Linked DNA regions of Homo sapiens. The protein of the gene in region 1 interacts with the protein of each later gene in a pairwise test. Each region holds a gene or a part of one and is shown in the gene's direction. Other genes may lie near its edges.

Evidence for each region.
Region 2: the proteins of DDX21 (region 1) and RBFOX2 interact in a two-hybrid assay, tested with the Homo sapiens proteins (one large-scale study listed by BioGRID).
Region 3: the proteins of DDX21 (region 1) and CARF interact in binary tests that used the Homo sapiens proteins (3 or more experiments, as listed by UniProt).

The regions. Positions count from the first base shown.
Region 1 is NC_000010.11:68,982,869-68,985,568, forward strand, and holds the end of DDX21 (nucleolar RNA helicase 2), read left to right. Parts: 3' UTR 1-2,200; downstream 2,201-2,700.
Region 2 is NC_000022.11:35,808,720-35,812,460, reverse strand, and holds part of RBFOX2 (RNA binding protein fox-1 homolog 2), read left to right. Parts: intron 1-2,456; coding exon 2,457-2,681; intron 2,682-3,741. UniProt on the Homo sapiens protein: RNA-binding protein that regulates alternative splicing events by binding to 5'-UGCAUGU-3' elements. Prevents binding of U2AF2 to the 3'-splice site.
Region 3 is NC_000002.12:202,918,659-202,922,399, forward strand, and holds part of CARF (calcium-responsive transcription factor), read left to right. Parts: intron 1-3,741. UniProt on the Homo sapiens protein: Acts as a transcriptional activator that mediates the calcium- and neuron-selective induction of BDNF exon III transcription. Binds to the consensus calcium-response element CaRE1 5'-CTATTTCGAG-3' sequence.

The DNA.
Region 1 (2,700 bases):
GAACATTATTTTTCATGCAAAGTTAAAAGCACATTGTGCCTCCTTTTGACCACTTGCCAAGTCCCTGTCTCTTTCAGACACAGACAAGCTTCATTTAAATTATTTCATCTGATCATTATCATTTATAACTTTATTGTTACTTCTTCATCAGTTTTTCCTTTTGAAAGGTGTATGAATTCATTACATTTTTATTCTAATGTATTATCTGTAGATTAGAAGATAAAATCAAGCATGTATCTGCCTATACTTTGTGAGTTCACCTGTCTTTATACTCAAAAGTGTCCCTTAATAGTGTCCTTCCCTGAAATAAATACCTAAGGGAGTGTAACAGTCTCTGGAGGACCACTTTGAGCCTTTGGAAGTTAAGGTTTCCTCAGCCACCTGCCGAACAGTTTCTCATGTGGTCCTATTATTTGTCTACTGAGACTTAATACTGAGCAATGTTTTGAAACAAGATTTCAAACTAATCTGGGTTGTAATACAGTTTATACCAGTGTATGCTCTAGACTTGGAAGATGTAGTATGTTTGATGTGGATTACCTATACTTATGTTCGTTTTGATACATTTTTAGCTTCTCATTATAAGGTGATTCATGCTTTAGTGAATTCTTCATAGATAGTATATATAAAAGTACATTTTAATAGAAAGCCAGGGTTTTAAGGAATTTCACATGTATAAGGTGGCTCCATAGCTTTATTTGTAAGTAGGCTGGATAAATGGTGCTTAAATGGTAATGTACTCCACTTCTTCCTATTGGAAGATTAACATTATTTACCAAGAAGGACTTAAGGGAGTAGGGGGCGCAGATTAGCATTGCTCAAGAGTATGTAAAAAAAAAAAAAAAAAAAAAGAACCAAACCACTGGAAATAATCAAATGCAAAAAGGTAACAAATTCATAACTGGAAAGCAAAGAGAAGAACAAGTATGATTTGGATGATAAAGCATTGTTTTAATGGTGAAAACTTCACAGATCACTAATGTTTCTAGAGGTTAACTTCAAGTGGGCAAGCTGGGGTTTTTAGGTAGTCAGTGGCCTAGTTCCTAAAGCCACAGTATAGGATCTGTTAAACTGAATGTCTGTTGAAAGTTTGTTTTAGCTGCTTGGAGGCTTCCTTTTAAGACAAACTGTATGTGATTAAGTTGTTTTGAGGGAACTGAAGAACCTGATGTAGCCCCTGGCCAGATAACTGCCTGATTTCTCAGATATTATTTCTCTGGGAAACATTCTACATAGCACAGGAGCTTAAGAGTGGCATTATCTTCTCGCCTTAATTTCCAGAGATTATTTCTGTACTGAGAATCCTGGAACTACTATGCTAGGAAATTTAAAGCTGCATGGTCTGTCTTGTTTTCATTTAATTATTGTGAATACCTAGAATCTTTCTTGGTCCTGATTTCTCTTGCTTAATCCAGTCTTTATCTCTAACTGCCCCTTATTTGATCACCATGTACTAGGAGCTCTGATAGCCAGCTCAGCTCCTAATCCTTGAGGCAACATTCTTTTTCTATTTGAACTTCAGTTCTGTCCTTGAATCCCGACTAGATATTTCTTGCCCTCTGGTCTCAGAATTCTCTTGGCTTTTATTCCTTGATCCACTTGCCAGTTTTATCACTTTACCCTTGTTCCTCATGGCTTCCCATCAAGCCATGGGTATTAGGTGACAGTGTAATTTATTAGATTCTGGTTTTGCCCAAATACTGGGCATGCTTTAATAATAACTGAACCATTTCATTATTTGGATAGGCATGGGTACCTTATCAAGCAGATTAAAAGGATATGGTACCCGTCCTTTAGAAAAGAACAGCTAAAACCTTGTTGTGGATTATGGATTTAGCCTAAAGAAAAATAATCTGGCATAAATTAAGAGTAAGAGAGAAGATTAATAGAAATTTCACTTCACATAACTTAAAACATGGCTATTTCAATAAAGGACTAAAGTTTCTCCTGGATCCCAGAATTCAACCTGTATTTATAAATGTATAATGTATTTAGCTACTTTTTGGTTTAAATGAACTTGTTGGGTTAGCTTGGTAAATGTTATAATTTTTACTATTTTCTACAAAGAAAATATTTTCTAATTTAAGTTGGAGCTATCTGTGCAGCAGTTTCTCTACAGTTGTGCATAAATGTTTTTACTATAAAATGAGCTAATGTATAAAATACTGCTGTATACCATAATAAAGATAGTAATACTTGATTTTAGTGGCTTTTGTTTTCTAAAATGAAAATAGCTTGAAATATTTATTATAAAAATAATAAAAGCTAGATATAAAAATCTAAAGAGAAAAAAAACCAGTCACCCTTATCTAATATTTTAGTGAGCAGTCTTCCACATGTTCATTTATAAAATTGGAATTATTTGATTTTGTGTATTGCTTTTCCCCCCTCAACATGTTGTGCACAATTTTGTACAGGCTTACATGGACATTTTTGATGACATGTTTTCTTGTATGGATATGCCACTACACATTTAACCAGTACTCGATGTCCATGTTGGTTATTTCTAATTTTTCACCATTATAAACAACCCTAAAGTTAATATCCTCACATATGTGTTTGCATACTCGTCTGTCACCTTAGGATACGTTTTCTAAAGGTAGAACTACAGCTTTGAACTCCTAGGCTCAAGTGATCTTCCCTCTCAGCCTCCCAAGTAGCTGAGACTACAGGGGGGTACCACCAAACCTGGCTAATATT
Region 2 (3,741 bases), on another chromosome or scaffold:
AACTATTTTATATCTCTCGTCAGATGCCCAGAATAGCTATAAAGACATCATAAAAACTATCCTAACCTAGAAATAACGTAAAGAAGTTATATGGTGATGGGTGACGAAGATAGACTTTTTCCAAAAAAATTTAAAGTTTTCATAACATATTTTCTAAGAACTAAAGAGAGGGGTTTTTTTTTTTTTCTATCTTTTGAGATGGAGTCTCACTCACTCTGTTGCCCGGGCTAGAGTTTAATGGCAGCGATGTCAGTTCACTGCAATGTCCTCCTCCTGAGTTCAAGCGATTCTCCTGCCTCAGCTTCCAAGATATCTGAGATTAAAGGCATTTGGCACCATGCTTGGCTAATTTTTGTATTTTTAATAGGGATGGAGTTTCACCATGTTGGCCAGGCTGGTATTGAACTCCTGACCTCAAGTGATCTGCCCGCCTCAGCCTCACAAGGTGCTGGGATTACAGAAGTGAGCCACCACACCCAGCCTTTTTTTTTTTTTTTTTTCCCTTAAGAGACGTGGTCTTTCTGTTGCCCAGGCTAGGGTGATGCAATCATGGCTCACTGCAGCCTCCAGCTCCTGGGCTCAAGCAGTCCTCCTTTCTCAGCCTCACAAGTAGCTGGGACTACACATACCACCATGCCCAGCTAATTTTTTAAAGTTTTTCTAGAGACAGGGTCTCTTTGTGTTGGCCAGGCTGATCTTGAACTCCTAGCCGCAGGCAGTCCTCCCATCTCAGCCTCCCAAAGTGCTGGGATTACAAGGGCATGAACCATTATGTCCAATAGCAGGAAAATTTTTATGTAAAGCAATTTATTTTTATTTTTATTATTAATTTCTGTTACAGAATCTTCATTCCTGCCTTTACCAGTTTGCAAGGGCTGCCATAAGAAAGTATTACATAACAATATAGCAATGTATTTTCTTACCATTCTGGAGGCTAGAAGTGCAAGATCAGGGTGTCAGCAGGGTTGGTTTCTTCTGATGTCTTTTTTGTTGGCTTGTAGATGGTCATGCTCTGTGTCTTCACATGGGCCTCCCTCTGTATGTGTCTGTATCCACATTCCCTTTTCTTATAAGGACACCACTCCAATTGGATTAAGGCCCACCCTCATGACATCACTTTAATTACCTTTTTAAAGACCTTATCTTTAAAAACAGTGACATTTTGAGGTACTGAGGGTTAGAACTTCAACATACGGGTTGGAGACTGAGCACAACTCAGTCTATGACTCTGCCCCTTCCCACTGATAACTGTAATCAGTTCATCACTTTTTATCTAGACTGTGGCAGCCCCCCACCCCCAATTCTCTGCCTTTTTTCTTTCACCACTATTGTGTAAAGCAGTTTTTATTACCAAGTAGAAATGATTCTTGGACATTGGAGACAGCTGAATTTTGAAGTTGTTTAACTTTTAAATGGAAGAGAGTTATGAATTTTTGTTTCAAGGTAGGTCACTACCATTCTCTTAAGAGTAACACAGTAATTCAGTGTTTCAGAATATTGGCTTCCCCTTATTGATGATATATTTTTTGTCATTCTCTTTAGTATTAAAAACAATATATTTGTATAGGTTTTATTACAAAAGTAATATATGTTTATTATTGGGGCACAAGGAAACTTTTGGGGGTTTTGGATATATGTGTTGACTATCTTGATTGTGGTGATGATTTCATGAGAATATAAGTGCATATATCAAAACTTACCAAATTGTATACTGTAAATAAATAAGTGCTGTTTATCATATGACAGTTATATCATAATAAAACTGCTTAATTTTTTTGCTGATTTGATGACTAAAGACTTGGACTTACTTTGATGTTAATGTGAATTTTCGTGACAGTTAGTGAGGTTGAGCATTTTTATTAGTTGTTTGTATTTCATTTTCAATGAATTGTTCAGATACACAGTTTGCCTGTTTTTCTCTTGGGATGTGTGTGTGTTTGTGTGTACATGTGTGTCTGTCTTGTCAACTTGGTTAACCCACTCTGGGACTAGTGATAATAACCCAGCATCTCTCTTACCTTTTGCTAATATTTTCTCCTAGTTGATTTTTCTTTTTTGTTTTTCGTATTTTTTAGGGACAGAGTCTCTCTCTGTGGTATAGGCTGTAGTGGCTTGTGGTCCAAAGTGGGCTCTCCACCTACTTTTAATTTAAAGGAAAGATTTTTGCCCCTTTGGCATCTAGTCCACTTAAATATGGTTGTGGGCCTGTCTAGTAACTACACATTAACAAAAGTGAGTGTGTGTGTGTGTGTGTGTGTGTGTGTGTGTGTGTCTGTCCACATACATATATCTATGTGTGTATGTGTAATAATATTTTCTCCAATCCTGGAGCAATAAGCATTCCATTTTACCTATGCAGTGAGAGAATATTCAGAGAATTCCATATACTCACTTTAAAAATAGTTACGTAACAAGGATTCAAAGTCACTTTTTCTTTCTCTTGTTGTTTGTTTTAGGGTAACCAGGAGCCGACAACAACTCCTGACGCAATGGTTCAGCCTTTTACTACCATCCCATTTCCACCACCTCCGCAGAATGGAATTCCCACAGAGTATGGGGTGCCACACACTCAAGACTATGCCGGCCAGACCGGTGAGCATAACCTGACACTCTACGGAAGTACGCAAGCCCACGGGGAGCAGAGCAGCAACTCACCCAGCACACAAAATGGATCTCTTACGGTACGTGGACCATGAGGTGAAAAATGGAAGGATGCATGGCAATCATATAGAAATTGTCGCCTTAATTATACAATTAGAAGACTCTCGGAATTAATTTAGCATTTACACCTGTTCTCATTTACACCTTCTCTCAACAGCATTGTATACATTGTCCTCCCTCCTCCTAGAAATACTTAGTCTCTTGGCTTTTCGAGCTCTCCCAATTTTCCTGCCAAGCACTGGGTGTTCTGCTCCTGCCTCCTTCTCTGTTCAACTTTTAAATGGTGCAGTACTCCATATGTAGGTCCTGGAACCCCTTTTCTTTTTATTTTATATCCTTTCTCTGCATAATTATACTACCAAACTCAAGCAAAACCTAGGAATATTCTTTCTTTCTTTCTTTCATCTGTACATCTAATTGATTAGCAAGTCTTGACAACCATAACTCTAAAACTACTTCGTCTTCTTCTCTACATCTTATTACTCTTCCACCAAATTGCTTGTGTTTGAATCTCAATATGGCCCCTACTAAACTGTGTGACCTTGGACCAGTTATTTAATCTCTCTGCCCTTGGCTCACTCTAAAATGAAGATAATAGTACCTACCTGAAGAGGCTGTTAGGAAATTTAAAAGAATTTATCATCATCACTGCTCTAGTCCAAACCTCATCACTTATTTCCGGTATTACTGTTGCCTAACTTATCTATCCTCCACATAGGACTAAGGTGGTTTTTTTTTTTTTTTAATGCAAATGCCGATTTCCTACTTAACTCTTAATAGTTCCCTAATGCAATTAGAATATAATCTGAACTCCGTACTTGGTTTACTAGTCTCTAGCCCCAGCTTACCTCTTTGACTTCACCTCTTACTACTAACTTGCTAAAGTAAAGGAAATGTCATAAATTAATAATAGGTATATATCTCATACATACCAACATATGGGAAATTGTATTGTCTCTTGCTTTGTTGTCCAGGCTGGAGTGCAGTGGCATGAACATAGCTAGCTCACTGCAACCTCAGTCTCCTGGGCTCAAGTGATCCTCCTGCCTCAGCCTCCCATCTAGCTGGGACTACAAGCAC
Region 3 (3,741 bases), on another chromosome or scaffold:
CTTTGCAGTTGTCAGGATTAAAGAAGGTAAAGCAAATTGATGGAAGAAAGGAGGAAGGAAGAGGTAATACTTTTCACTGCATCCAAATTATTTTTTTAAAGTGTGTCTGTAACTTAAAAATGTACTTTTAATCTTCATTTCAACAATGGGTTAGGTCAGTCATCATATTAAAACCAACTTTTCCGTATAGAAACTACTTTAATATTTTCTCAATGTAACCACAAAAAGTCTTTAACCCATAGATTTTCATTTCCAGAAGGCAGTAGAAAATATAGTTATTTTTATTCCATTGGCAAAATCTCAATATGGGCAAAATTCTGCAGTAGGTGGTTTGTGTTTGGCAGTCTTCCTCTGTCAACATACTCCCCACCCCTTAACTAGTGTACTTACCTAAGCCAGTCATACTTCCCTCAGTCTTCACTGCAGCATCCTGTGCAGGCCTGCTGAATCCCTCTAAGTTCTTTGAGGCTCACCTGTACTTGCTTTCTCACCTCCAAGTAAAACTTTTCACTCCCTCAGGGTAGCTCTTTTTAACTCGTTTTAAAGGAAGAAATCCATCCTTACAGAAATTTATACCAATTTGTTAATGGCTGATGTTCCCTCCAAAGTTTTTTCTTTTTAAGAAAAAGGGCTTATTAACATCAATGAAAATTTTACTGATGAAATTTCAGAGTGAGTGAGCAAAAGTAAATAAAGTAAAAAAAATAAAATTAGGCTAGTAAAGGTAACTTGCAGTAGGATCAGAGTACCTGTCAGGAAACTGGGAATATTTGGAATTCTTACCCCTAAGCTATTGGCACTTTTTACAACTTCTTCCTAAACTCCACTTCTCAATCTGTTCTACCTAATGTTTTTTCAGTGACTACAATGCCTGCATAGTTAGAGCTCTAGCTTTTGGGTGGTGTCGGAGATAGAGTTTTTTGTATGTTACGGTACTGCTTCTAATTAAATTTCAACTGGCAAAAGTTGAAAACAAAAAGGAACAAATAATTCCTTTTAACATCTTTAATTTGTTAACCTATCCAGAAAAAGATTTAAAGCTATGGATTTTTGACTAATAAAGGCAGAAGAGAGCTTTGTTTATTGGTTTGAAAAAGTTCCTATTGTAATAATAGAGTACGGGCTTTGAAATAAACACATGTAGGTTTGAGTTCTTGCTCAGCCACTCAGCATATTTGTAATCTTGGGAAAGTTACTTATCTGCCTATCCTATATGTAAATTGGAACAGGTAACTGAATCACAGCATTGTCAAAAGGGTTAAATGATATAGGTAAAACACTTTTAGCATAGTACCTTACTATGGTAAATGCTCAATAAATGATAACCTTATAATTTTGAGCAATGAACCTCATCATCTTTTTCTATAAAATGATGATAATAATAGGTCCTATATCACAGAATAGTAGAGTGATTGTTGATAATTCTAGCTAATAATTATTTAGGATAGTTGAGATTCAATACATTCTATTTTATAACTATGACAATTAAATTCATAATCTTTTTTTTTTTTTTTGAGACGGGGTCTCGCTCTGTCGCCCAGGCTGGAGTGCAGTAGTGCACTCTCAGCTCACTGCAAGCTCCGCCTCCCGGGTTCACGCCATTCTCCTGCCTCAGACTCCTGTAGCTGGGACTACAGGCGCCCACCATCATGCCCGGCTAATGTTTTTTTGTATTTTTAGTAGAGATGGGGTTTCACCATGTTAGCCATGATGGTCTTGATCTCCTGACCTTGTGATCCGCCCGCCTCGGCCTCCCAAAGTGCTGGGATTACAGGCGTAAGCCACCGTGCCTGTCCTAAATTCATAATCTTAATTGATCTATCATAATAGTGCTTATATTTTAAAAGTCAAAGAGCTCTCAGAAATATTAAGAAATTTTTTTGATCTTGATGTCATCATGTTTAGACAGTGAATATTCAGATTACTTTAAAAATTAAGCCAGGTGCAGTGAGCCAAGATCGCGCCATTGCACTCCAACCTGGGCAACAAGAGTGAAACTCCGTCTCAAAAAAAAAATGGGAAAGAAAGAAAAAGAAAATTAAACTGTATTTAAATCGTATTCTTGACAATTTACTTTAGAATAGTAAATTGTATTCCTAATAGGAAAAAAGCAAGAAAAAGGTAAATTTTTAAAACGTTATATTCCTAATAGATATTTCATTTTTAATAAGCCCCTCAATAGGACCTTATTTGCAGTTGAATCTAACTTTGTAAAAAGTTTCCTGTTTTAATAGAGTCCTTTTGTATTTCTGTGTAGTGCATATTGGAAGTCAGTCAATAAATAATAGTTAAATGAATTTTAAAAATCAGGATAATCAACTCTTAGAAACATAAAATCTTAGTATTATTATTATATTTTTTGAGACGGAGTCTCACTCTGTCGCCCAGGCTGGAGTGCAGTGGTGCAATCTCGGCTCACTGCAACCTCCGCCTCCCAGGTTCAAGCAATTCTCCCGCCTCAGCCTCCCAGGTAGCTGGGACTACAAGTGCGTGCCACCGTGCCCGGCTCATTTTTTGTATTTTTGGTAGAGACGGGGTTTCACCATGTTAGCCAGGATGGTCTTGACCTCCTGACTTTGTGATCCGCCTGCCTTGGCCTCCCAAAGTGCTGGCTGGGATTACAGGTGTGAGCCACTGCACCTGGCCCAAAGTTCTTTAATTCCAGAAAATTTTAGATCTATGTAAACACCTCAGTAAATTGAAGAAATTTCTATTACCTTGCCATCAGACAGCTTTGTATTAAATTAAATCTCTATATTCAGGTCAGTTTCTTTTGCATTTTCCATAATTGCGTTAGTTAATTAGCAAACATGAGTTCACTTAAAATGTTCAGTTCCTCTGTGATATCATGAAATAAACCTGATTTTAAAAATTCAGATATAGTTATAAAACACACAGAATATAAATTTTATACATAGAGACTTTAAGTGTCTTGATCATCCTTGTATCTCCAGCACATAGAACAGTCACTTGGATGTGTAGTAATAATTCATTTTGTGAATGAATATCTGCTTATAAATATATATGATTAGAAAAAATCTGGAAGAATATGCAAAAATGTCAATAGTGATTTCTGTAAAATTATAAGTGACTTTAACTTTCTGATGTTGCTATATTAACATAATATTTGTTTTAATGACATAAACAATAAAACTTAAAATTTTATTGAAAAATTTTTTTTTCCTGAGATGGGGTCTCACTCTGTCACCCAGGCTGGAGTGCAGTGGCATGATTATGACTCACTGTAGCCTCAAACTCCTGAGCTCAACCAGTCCTCCCACCTCAGCTTCCCAAGAAGCTATGGGGACTATAGGCACTCACCACCATGCCTGGCTGATTTTTTTTTTTTTCAATAGAGACAGAATCTCATTATATTTCCCAGGCTGATCTTAAACTCTGGCTTCAAGCCATTCTTCCACCTTGACTTCCCAAAGTGCTAAGATTACAGGGATTAGCCACCACACTGAGCCCTTAAAAAGAAATTTTTAATCTTTTGAGACAGGGTCTTGCCCTGTCATGATCATGGTTCACTGCAGCCTCAATGTCCTGGGCTCAGGCAATCCCCCCACCTCAGCTTTCTAAGTAGCTGGGACCACGACACATGCCACCACACCCAGCTAATTTTTAAAAATTTTTTTGTAGAGATGGGGGTCTCACTATGTCAGCCAGGTTGGTCTTGAACTCCTGGATTCAAGTGACCTGCCTGCCCCAGCCTCCCAAAGTGATGGGATTACAGGCATG